Regions from separate parts of the Homo sapiens genome. Here all the other regions are reported to be linked to region 2. The links are microRNA targets in miRTarBase. Many come from high-throughput screens and were not tested one by one. Region 2 holds a microRNA gene; each other region holds the end of a gene's coding sequence.

Region 1 (3,247 bases), not on the chromosome of region 2:
ACATGTTAGGACAAGTGGCATACAAGGGAAAAAAACCCGTTCATTTAAGTTACAGAAACAGAAAAAAAAAAACTGGCTTATTCCCACACTTACTCTACTCAAAGCTTTGAGAAGACTAATTTTGGCATCCTCTGGCTAAATACAAAACAACAAAACAAAACAAGGCAAACTCTTTCAGCAAGAGCTGTGGGGGAAGGGACTATAAGGGACACACACAACTGACAGGCAAAAGCTCTGAGCACGTGATTGCTAAGTTTAATTCAACTGTTACACCCCATTCTGCCTTGTAAAAATAACAAAACGCTCCTATCAAAATGACATTGTGATGTGAGTACAGGCTTTTTGTTTTGGTACAGCTCTAAAAAATGTTGGCACCGAATGCACTTAAGAAAAGTGTTAAGGCTTAATACAAATACAGAGACGAGTCATTTCTCAATGCAGCTTAGAGGGTGAGAACAGGATGCTAGGTTTTTAAATCTTCCAAATACAGGCAGTCCCCAACGTACAGACATACAGGACACCTCCCAAATGTAAACGACAGCCACACAGCAGGGCTTGCATGCGCAGGAACTCTTCTTCTCCCAGTGAGCAGACTAAGCACTCTGAATCCCACCCCACTGCCTCGCAGAGGGAAAGAAGGCAGGACAGATGCAAGAAGAGTAATGTCAGGGGCTCCATCACAGCTGCCCAGGGGCTTCTGCTGTAGTTCATATTTTCCTCATTCCCATCTCTGGTTTCTCCCATAACCCAGAAGTCCCTGCCAGGGGCGGAAGTAAAGAGCTTTTCCTCTCACCTAGCGGACTGCAAGGGCTGGGAGAATCACAGGGCCCAGTACCGTCACGTCCTATTTCTTCCTGGCAATCTGATTTGGAATTCGTGAATCATTTTCTCAATAAAAAAACAGAAGTTATAAATGGTAGTTCATTTCCACCATTAAACTGTTTCCTTTCAAGTTGCATCAATGACTTTGAAGCACAAACCACCTGAAGTGTGTGTAGAGTCACACAGAGTGTTTCTTGGCTCCAAAGTCTACAGGCAATCAAAAGGGGGAAGCTGTCTTTGGTTGACAAAGCCTTGTGCAGACCCCAGTGTGCCAGGTGTAGGAAGGGGAGCTTGGCAGGCGGCTCCTGCAGGCACTTAAGCAGTGAGGCAGCATGAGCCTGACTGAACATGGCTGCTGCTTTTCTGAAGTTTAATAATGATGATGTTTCTAGCACCAAGCATTAGCTTTGTAGGCACTCAGAGCAAAGCTGCTGCCGCCACCCAGACGTTCTCCTCTGTTAACAGATGCCCACCCAAGGGCAGCATGAGAACTGGGCCTGCAGCCCTTGAGGGGGATGGGCAGAGGCTTCTGCCTGAAGATGAAAGCACCACCACCTTTGCCATCCCATTAGCTGAGTGAGCAAAGCTCAGGGAATTGGACAGGTGTGACTTTGCTACTGAACTCCTTCATCTCCTGGCCTAAGGTCTCTAGTCTCTTCTGGAAGCTTGTTTGTGAGTTAGATCCAGAAGTTCTATAAAGCTTTGTAGAGGGTGGCCTCCACAGCTCTTCTTCCTCTTTGGTGTACCTGAACAATTGACTTTTTTCTGGAAAGGTGTCAGAAACAGACCAGAGTCAACAATCATTTATGTAAAGCTGGTATTTAAAATTTAGCTTTTTAGATATTATTAAAGAATCCAAACCTAAGAACCCAAGGTTCCCAAGCATCTCTTCTTTCCACCAACCAATTAAGGAATAAAGAAAGACACAGGAAGAATTTAAACAAGCCACTTACTCGGAAATATCTGAATAGATTTTTAAAGTCCCGCAGAGGTCAGCGGGCCTCATTTATGGGAAGAACTGTGACTTGTGAAGGGAACTGTCTACATCACTGGAGAACAACAAACGCCTAAACTTAAGGCTGATGAGAGGAAAAAAGCAAGAATTCACAAGCAAAACTGGCATGTAAAGGACCAAGACCAGCCCTGTGTGAAAGACAGGCAGATTCCAACATGAGATCAGATCAGGCCGAGGTTTCAGATGGCAGGAACTGGGCACTTCAGAGGGTCAGGGCACCAAAACAATCTTCCATGAAGTAGAAGACGGATAACTATTATTATTTGGTTTTTTGAAAGCTGCCGAGGAAAAGCAATCAAGATGTTTCAAGAAAAGACTACAGAACAATATGCTGGGGGTAAAATGAAGTGGGGATGCTGGATTTAGCAGCCGTGATCTCCAGAATGGAAGCGGTTCTGCTAAGAGGTCAATATACTGTTAGTGTTTCTGCTTACGCCTCCTCCATCCCACAGCAGCAGTGGACAGGCTGTTTTGGTTTCTTTCAGTCATTCCTAGACATCCAATCAGCTGGCGGGCTGTTGATCCAAGGACCATGCCCTGCCCCACCTCCCCACCCTCACCCCCCTTCCAGTTCCTCTCAAACCTGGACTACACATGAGTGATGGCCAGGGGTGCCCCATTTCATCCCCACAGAGGCATCTCCCAGCCATCTGGAAGGCACGGGTCTCCAAGCAGCTGTCATGACGGCCAGGAGACGCTGAGCAGCCAGGCTCACATAAGACTAACCCTCTTCCCACCCCGCTCATTTGGGCAAAAGGAAATGAAAACATGGCTACCCTATCTCTTGAGTTTCTGGTCTGGCTCCGGGTGGAGCAGTGGCTTCTCTTAGTAGAAGGAGATGCTGGATTTGCCTCCCGGTGGGTTCAGGACCTTGTTGTGAGAGCGAGGCCGCGGCCCCAGCCGGGGCTCATGGCTGTCGACTGTGGGCATGGGCTCCTGCTCCTTGGCGGGGCCTGCTTTTCTGGCGCTGCCTTTCTCACCTGGCTCTGCTCCAGCCGGGATGCTCCTTGCAGCTGTGGGACACAAAGTTAGAACAACATCCCATTAGAGGCAACCCATGACCCTGACAGGCAGGCTGTGGAAATAAAAAGTGTGTCATAGAGCAACCTGCAAGAAATTCATGCTGTAACTGGGAAAGAGAAGACAATATAGACAGGCTTTTCATCTGGTACCAAAACAACTCACTGTAATTAGCAGATGCAGTTTTGAAATGGGCATAAAGTTGGGGCTTGCTACTGTAAATACTCCTTGATTTCTTCCTAAGTGAATTGTTTCTTTATATTGCTTGTTAGACACCACTCCCATTTCTTCCATCTCAAGTATAGAAAGCAAGCCCCTGAGAGTGACCATGAGGCGGCGAGGGAATGCATCCTAGGTGAGGGCTTAGCAAGGCAAAGGCAGGCTCTGTTG
Region 2 (3,247 bases):
AATGACGGGGCCCCAGGTTGATCACCTCATGCTGGTGAGGGATGGGGGCTCGGTGTGGTGGGCAGGCTGGGTGAGTCAGGAGGGCCGGTGTTGCCCCCAGGGCTCCAGCACCACCAGGACCTGAGCACCCCAGTCCTGCGGTCCGATGTAGATGCCCTGCAGCAGGTGGTGGAGGAAGCTGTGGGGCAGGCCCTGCCTGGGGCCACCGTCACGCTGACCGGCGGCTTCCGCAGGTAAGAAGGCCCGACGTGCCCCTCTGGCTTGGCTTCAGACCCCTCCCCAGTGAAGGGACCTGAGTCGGGGACCCTGAAGCGGGCCCACTCGTTGGAAGGGATGTGGCCTGGGGCTGGAGTGAGCAGGCCGTGTCCCTGAGTCAGAGTCAGACTGACGCCCTCAGGGGGAAGTTGCAGGGCCATGACGTGGACTTCCTCATCACCCACCCCAAGGAGGGTCAGGAGGCGGGGCTGCTGCCTAGAGTGATGTGCCGCCTGCAGGACCAGGTGAGGGCCTCCCTGCTCCCCAAGAGCCACCGCTGGCCAATGCCACTGCCTCCTGCTCTCTCCACACCACCGGATGGTCTCAGCCACGCCCGCCTCTCCCCACAGGGCCTCATCCTGTACCACCAGCACCAGCACAGCTGCTGTGAGTCCCCTACCCGCCTGGCCCAACAGAGCCACATGGACGCTTTTGAGAGAAGTTTCTGCATTTTCCGCCTACCACAACCTCCAGGGGCTGCTGTGGGGGGATCCACGAGGCCCTGCCCATCCTGGAAGGCCGTGAGAGTGGACTTGGTAGTTGCACCCGTCAGCCAGTTCCCTTTCGCCCTGCTCGGTTGGACTGGCTCCAAGGTAGGCAGTGTGCCGCTGGGCCGCCTGGGGGTGGGGCTGGGCCAGCCCTGCTGAGGACAATCCCTTCCCTACAGCTTTTCCAGCGGGAGCTGCGCCGCTTCAGCCGGAAGGAGAAGGGCCTGTGGCTGAACAGCCATGGGCTGTTTGACCCGGAGCAGGTACATTGTTGGGGACTGGGGACAGCAAACAGCACCCATAGTCCGCTCCCTGACCCACAATCTGAAATGGCCCCAGACCCCTCCAGCCTGAAACCCATAGGACCCGAATCTGGGTCTCCACACACAGTTCCTGGCCCTCAAGAGCACACCCCACCTCGGCGCTGGGCTCTTCCCCACCCTCAGTCTTCCTGCAGGGAAGCAGCAGTGGCAAGACTCCTAGGTCACGGAAGTCCTGCTTCTGTTGCAGAAGACATTTTTCCAAGCGGCTTCAGAGGAAGACATCTTCAGACACCTGGGCCTTGAGTACCTTCCTCCAGAGCAGAGAAACGCCTGAGCCTGCCTGTGTCCCCCACTTCCACTCAGGAAATTGGGCTGCCCCCAACCTGGCCACTGAATGTCTCCAGGCAGATATGCTGCCCCCTGACCCCCACCTTCACCCCTCCCCGCCAAGGCCTGGCTCTTCCGGAGGTCAATTGTGCCTGCAGGATCAGTTGAGCCCCTGCTGGTGTGCTGCAGGGTGTGATGAGGTGGGAGCCCTCAGTGCCAGCCTCATCACTGTGTGACCCTGGGTCTGCTCTTAGCCTCCCCATGGCTCACGTTCCTGCCCTGGATGGGATGTGAGTGGGGCCCACATCGTGGAGCTGTGGTGGGGCCTGCAGTCATGAATGGCAAGTGGTCCCTGATGTGCAGTGTCTCATTAGTTGCACTGCAGTTAACTGTGGCTCCTGCAGGGCACCCTGCCCAGAATGCCCAGAAGAGAACCATGCATACCTGCACTGCATTTGAGAGCCATGAGCTGGAGGCTGTGGTTCGTGCCAGCAAGGAGCCTACTGTCTGGTGTGCTGTAGGCATCTGGAGAGGGAGAGGGCCTGGGTAGGAGCTGGGAGGAAGATAATTTTCAACTATGGGGCTTCAGTACTGCAGCGCCCCGAGCCAGGCTCTGTGCTTCTGCCTTTAAGGCCTGTTCTCAGCACAATGTCTCAAAAATAGGTCATATCCTGCCACTCCCGTCGCAGAGCCCTTTAATGGTTCCAAACCCTAAGTCCACACATAGCCCCTGGCTCTGGCATCTCTCCAGCCCCACTGGCCCCGAGCTGCTTGACTCACCGGCTTCCTATTTGATGCACCCAGGCCCCCTTGTGGCCAACTCCCTCCCCTTCTCACTGAGGCAGAAGCACTGAGGTGGGCTGGACATGGGTGCCCTCCACGTCCCTCATATCCCCAGGCACACTCTGGCCTCAGGTTTTGCCCTGGCCATGTCATCTACCTGGAGTGGGCCCTCCCCTTCTTCAGGCCTTGAATCAAAAGCCACTTTGTTAGGCGAGGATTTCCCAGACCACTCATCACATTAAAAAATATTTTGAAAACATGCAGTAAAGTTGACTCTTGGGGTGCAGTTTTTGCACACGTAGGGCACACCAGGTCCATCCCCAGAACACTTCCCATGCTGTCCTATTGTGGTCATGTGCTTCTCCACCCCCACCCACTTAGCGGTGCTACATCCCTATAGTTTTGCTTTCTCTAGAATGTCATGTAAATAGAACCAAACTATATTTAACCTTTGGACTGGCCTCTCCCCACAGCCTAATGCCTTTGACGTTCCTGCAGGTTGCTGGGTATGTTGAGTTTGTAATTTGTTCCATGCCATGGGTGTTCTACAGTTTATCCATTCAGGTGTTGAATGTCTGGGTTGTGGCCGGATGCCGTGGCTCATGCCTGTAATCCTAGCACTTTGGGAGGCTGAGACGGGTGGATCACTTGAGGCCAGGAGTTTGAGACCAGCCTGGCCACCATGGCGAAACCCCATCTCTACAAAAAATACAAAAATTTGCTGGGCATGTTGGCTCATACCTGTATTCCCAGCTACACGGGAGGCTGAGGCATAAGAATTGCTTGAACCTGGGATGCCAAGGTTGCAGTGAGCTGAGATTGTGCCACTGCACTCCAGCCTGGGCGACAGAGCAAGAGTCTGCCTAAAAAGAAAAAAAGTCTGGGTTGTTTCCAGGGTTTGGAGATGATGAATCGTACTGCTACAGACATGCATGTACAGGTTTTCGTGTAACACATGGGTCTTCATTTCTCTTGGGTAAATAGGCACAGGATTACTGGGTCATTTGGTAAGTATATGTTTATTTCATAAGAGCCAAGTTGTTGTCCCGAGTGCGTCTGTCATTTTGCAGTCCACCAGCGTTGTGAGCACCCCTGTAAGTTAAACACCACAGTAGGCAGTTGCTCTGTATC
Region 3 (3,236 bases), not on the chromosome of region 2:
GCAGAGGTTTCAGAGTGGTAGAGGAGCAGCATGAAGTACCTGAACTCAAAGTTTGGTGTTCCTCTTAGAGCCAAGATCTGAAGCTCTCCCAAACATAAAGCCCCTGCCTATACCAGCTGGGATGCCCCCCTTGCTTTATACCCACATCTTGGTTAGGTCTGGAAGATTTTAAGCACTATGAAGGCTTGTCTGCTGAGAACCTAGCTGGGCTTCAGAGCCGATGTCCTTTGATACACAGGGAAATTTGACACCACCCTCACCTCCAGGCCCCAAAAGGCCTGAGTCTGGGACCCCAGTCACCTCGGTACCCAAGCTCCTGACTCTTACCTCAGTCCCAACCCCTTGACAGGCACCAGGATCATCTACGACCGAAAGTTCCTGCTGGAGTGCAAGAACTCACCCATTGCCCGGACACCCCCCTGCTGCCTCCCTCAGATTCCCGGGGTCACAACTCCTCCAACAGCCCCTCTCTCCAAGCTGGAGGAGCTGAAGGAGCAGGAGACAGAGGAAGAGATACCCGGTAAGGAAAGCAGGAATTAAGAATTGTCCCAGCCTTTGAGTTCAAATGCCACTGTGACACAGTGCGGGGGTTCAGTTCCAAGAGGGGTTTCTGCACTGATGCTGAGCCTGCAGATCCTCAGACCAGCAACCTGTCTTCCTGCCTTTTCTCTCTCCAGATGACGCACAATTTGAAATGGACATCTAATCCAGTGCAGATGACCTGGCATGTGGAGTTACAGAGGGATCCCTCATGCCACTGCTGCCACCACCTCTTCCTGGGGCATCCAAAGGCCAGCTGGCCTCATCTAATCTGGAAGGGAGTGACTTGTTAGTTCCAGGCCTCCTTTAGTTCTGAGGCAGCTAGACCAGGGATAGGAGTGGGCAACTTGCCAAGCCCTTAACTCTACTTCCTCTTCAGTCTGTGGTACTCCTCCTAACCCTAAACCCTCTATGCTCAGGGGCTGGAACTGGGGAATGGAGTAAGTCACCTTCTGACTGCTTAGTAAACATTCAAAGAAATGCCTTGGCTCCAGTGTTCTCCTCAATGCTGATTTTCTCATCTCAGCCACACAGCTGAAGGCCCTGGCAGGCCTGGTTAAGCTCAGAGGCCTCAGATCATTCCCAGCTCCCACCAGGCCCACTTCCAGCAGCAATTAGAACCTGAGGCACGCTACAGTGGCAGGTTACATGAGCCTCCAAACCATAAACAGCAATAGCTTGGCCACTGCCAAGGGCTGTTCCTGTCTTCCCAGGAAGCAGCCTTCCTGGAACCAGGGCCCCCCAGCAGCCCCTCCCCTATCCATTCCAAAGCAGGACTCTTGGAAAAGAGGTGCTGTCCCAGCCTATAGCCATCCTGTCTCTCCCTGTGCCTTTTCTGCTTCCCACCTCTAAGCACCAGTTCCTCTATTCCAACACCAAAAACCTTGTACCCTTCTCACAGCATGATAGTCCACCAAGTACCTCTCTCAAAGGGTTACAAGAGACCTTAGAGTTCACACTGAAACCCAAAATGAGGCAGCAGTTTGTTTGGCAAGTCAGAGTTACAATCCCCAATCTCAGTAATCTGGTCTTTTTCTCCTTCGATTTACACAGAAAACCCCACTCAATGTGGTTCTAATCTCTGTAACAGTAGTATCTCAAGGGTGATACAGTGCAAATAGGACTGTCTTTCCTTTTGTTGAGGGAAAAGTCTCCCCGTTCTATTTGAGTCTGTTCTCATGCTGAAATGAAACCATCCAAACACAGCTGCTCCGCCCAGCACAGGATGTGCTTTCAGTCTACTTTGGGAAAAAGTGGTAGGCAGTAGTCTGACTTTACCCAGCAGATCCCTTCCTGATGAATGGAGAAGGGAGAACAGAGGTTTGCAGATACACAGGGAGCAGGGCAGTCGAGGACACCAGAGGGGACTAGCTTGGCACCGGAAGGGTTCATCTCTCCTACCCAAGGCCCACCGCAGAGATGTTTTTATTGAAATGCATGTTATGAGTAACACATGAACTCCCTCTGGCCCAGGTGGGACTTCTTCCCTCATAGGTGGGTCAGGCCCAGTGGGACAGTCTTGGTGGTGGTAAGAAGGGAGCCAAGTGACAGAAGGTCTCCAAGGCATAGGAGATGGTGTCCGGTGAGTCTGGGGAACCGAGGATTATGAAGCCTGCTGGAAGCCTGGTATGGTATGGTTCTTCTCAGCTGTGGCTGCAGATTTCTCTTCATTGGCTGCCTCCTCTGAAAACAGACTCCTCTTTTCTGCAATTAATCTTTTAACTCCTACCATCCACTGACTGACCTCAGTCACATGGTCAACCATGAGGGAGCGGTGGATGTCATCTGCTGCGTCCCACCGGTGGCTTGAAAGCTCTGAAGAGAGACGGGGGTTGAGCAAGCAGCCTGTGGTACAAGAGCTTCCATGCCTCCCCTCCCAGTCAATCAAAATCTCAGCACCTGCTCCAGCATAGCCAACCACAGCAGGAAAGGGATTTAGGCTATACCAAAGAACCCACCCATACCTTGCACCAGTAGAGCCATTCTCTTCTTTACAGGTATTGACAACTTTCCTCCAGCCCACTGTTCCTGCAGCAGTGCCAGGCGTCGGCTGATGTCATCACATACCTGCTTCTAAGAGACAGAAGCCCCCCTCCAATTCAGTGCTGCCAGCCCAATGAGGGGAGGAGAGGGGAAGACAGCACCACATAGGAAGCACCTGCTTTCTCTGGCCCACACTTTAGAATTCTGGTTCTTTACCCAAAGATTAGAGGCCCCACTGAGAAACTGATGAAACCTTCCTTTCCCTGCTGTCTTCTTCTGACACTGCCTGATGTTTCATTGAAAAGTAGAGGTCATTAAACAGGAATTCTCTCATCTTCCCACCACCAGTCTTCCTAACCCACCTCCTACTATGACTAGAATTCTAAAATTTCAGGGGCTTCTCAGACTCTCAGAAGCTCATCCTGTAGCGTTACTTCACAAAAAGAAAACTAAGCGCCAAAGAGGTGAAATGACCATGCTACTTTCCCTTTCTTTTAAGACATTCTTCAGATCTCTTTTTCTAAGAACTAAGAAAACACTATAGCTAGAAGAGGTTTCTTTCTCCCTAACTGGGCACAATATAAATTTCCTGAGAATAAAATCAGCAGCTTCTGCTCTGAATGGCATGGAGATACAGAAAATCAGGTTGTTCACTAATAGGAGCTGAATTCAACTCTTGTTCCCACAGCATCTTCTACTGATTGGTCTTCAAA

What was found. Region 2 holds the annotated microRNA hsa-miR-6838-5p (AAGCAGCAGUGGCAAGACUCCU, at 1,203-1,224, shown strand). A microRNA usually pairs through its seed, bases 2 to 8, with sites in the 3' UTR of a target mRNA and lowers its output. Matches are read on the target gene's strand: a 7mer-m8 pairs with bases 2 to 8, a 7mer-A1 pairs with bases 2 to 7 and ends in A, and an 8mer does both.
Region 1: miRTarBase lists JPT2 as a target of hsa-miR-6838-5p. Seed matches in the 3' UTR shown: 7mer-m8 at 2,288-2,294 and 7mer-A1 at 2,201-2,207.
Region 3: the mRNA of EIF4EBP3 is a reported target of hsa-miR-6838-5p. The part of its 3' UTR that is shown has no 7-base or 8-base seed match.

Annotation. Positions count from the first base shown.
Region 1 is chr16:1,698,414-1,701,660 of GRCh38, reverse strand. JPT2 (Jupiter microtubule associated homolog 2) reads right to left here. Exons shown (of 5, transcript NM_144570.3): 5 at 1-2,850. The coding sequence ends at 2,663. Among named protein-coding and RNA genes, the nearest start is that of MAPK8IP3, 6.2 kb to the left of the region's middle.
Region 2 is chr7:44,071,384-44,074,630 of GRCh38, reverse strand. It overlaps MIR6838 (microRNA 6838), which reads left to right and starts at 1,198; the gene lies at 1,198-1,253. POLM (DNA polymerase mu) reads left to right here. Exons shown (of 11, transcript NM_013284.4): 7 at 101-233; 8 at 398-500; 9 at 606-848; 10 at 923-1,006; 11 at 1,254-2,569. The coding sequence ends at 1,340. RefSeq lists enhancers at 193-262, 333-532.
Region 3 is chr5:140,548,557-140,551,792 of GRCh38, forward strand. EIF4EBP3 (eukaryotic translation initiation factor 4E binding protein 3) reads left to right here. Exons shown (of 3, transcript NM_003732.3): 2 at 350-520; 3 at 678-1,020. The coding sequence ends at 706. It overlaps ANKHD1-EIF4EBP3 (ANKHD1-EIF4EBP3 readthrough), which reads left to right. Exons shown (of 36, transcript NM_020690.6): 35 at 350-520; 36 at 678-1,020. The coding sequence ends at 681. It overlaps SRA1 (steroid receptor RNA activator 1), which reads right to left. Exons shown (of 5, transcript NM_001035235.4): 4 at 2,505-2,613; 5 at 1,512-2,355. The coding sequence ends at 2,144. Among named protein-coding and RNA genes, the nearest start is that of EIF4EBP3, 2.5 kb to the left of the region's middle. RefSeq lists an enhancer at 1-176.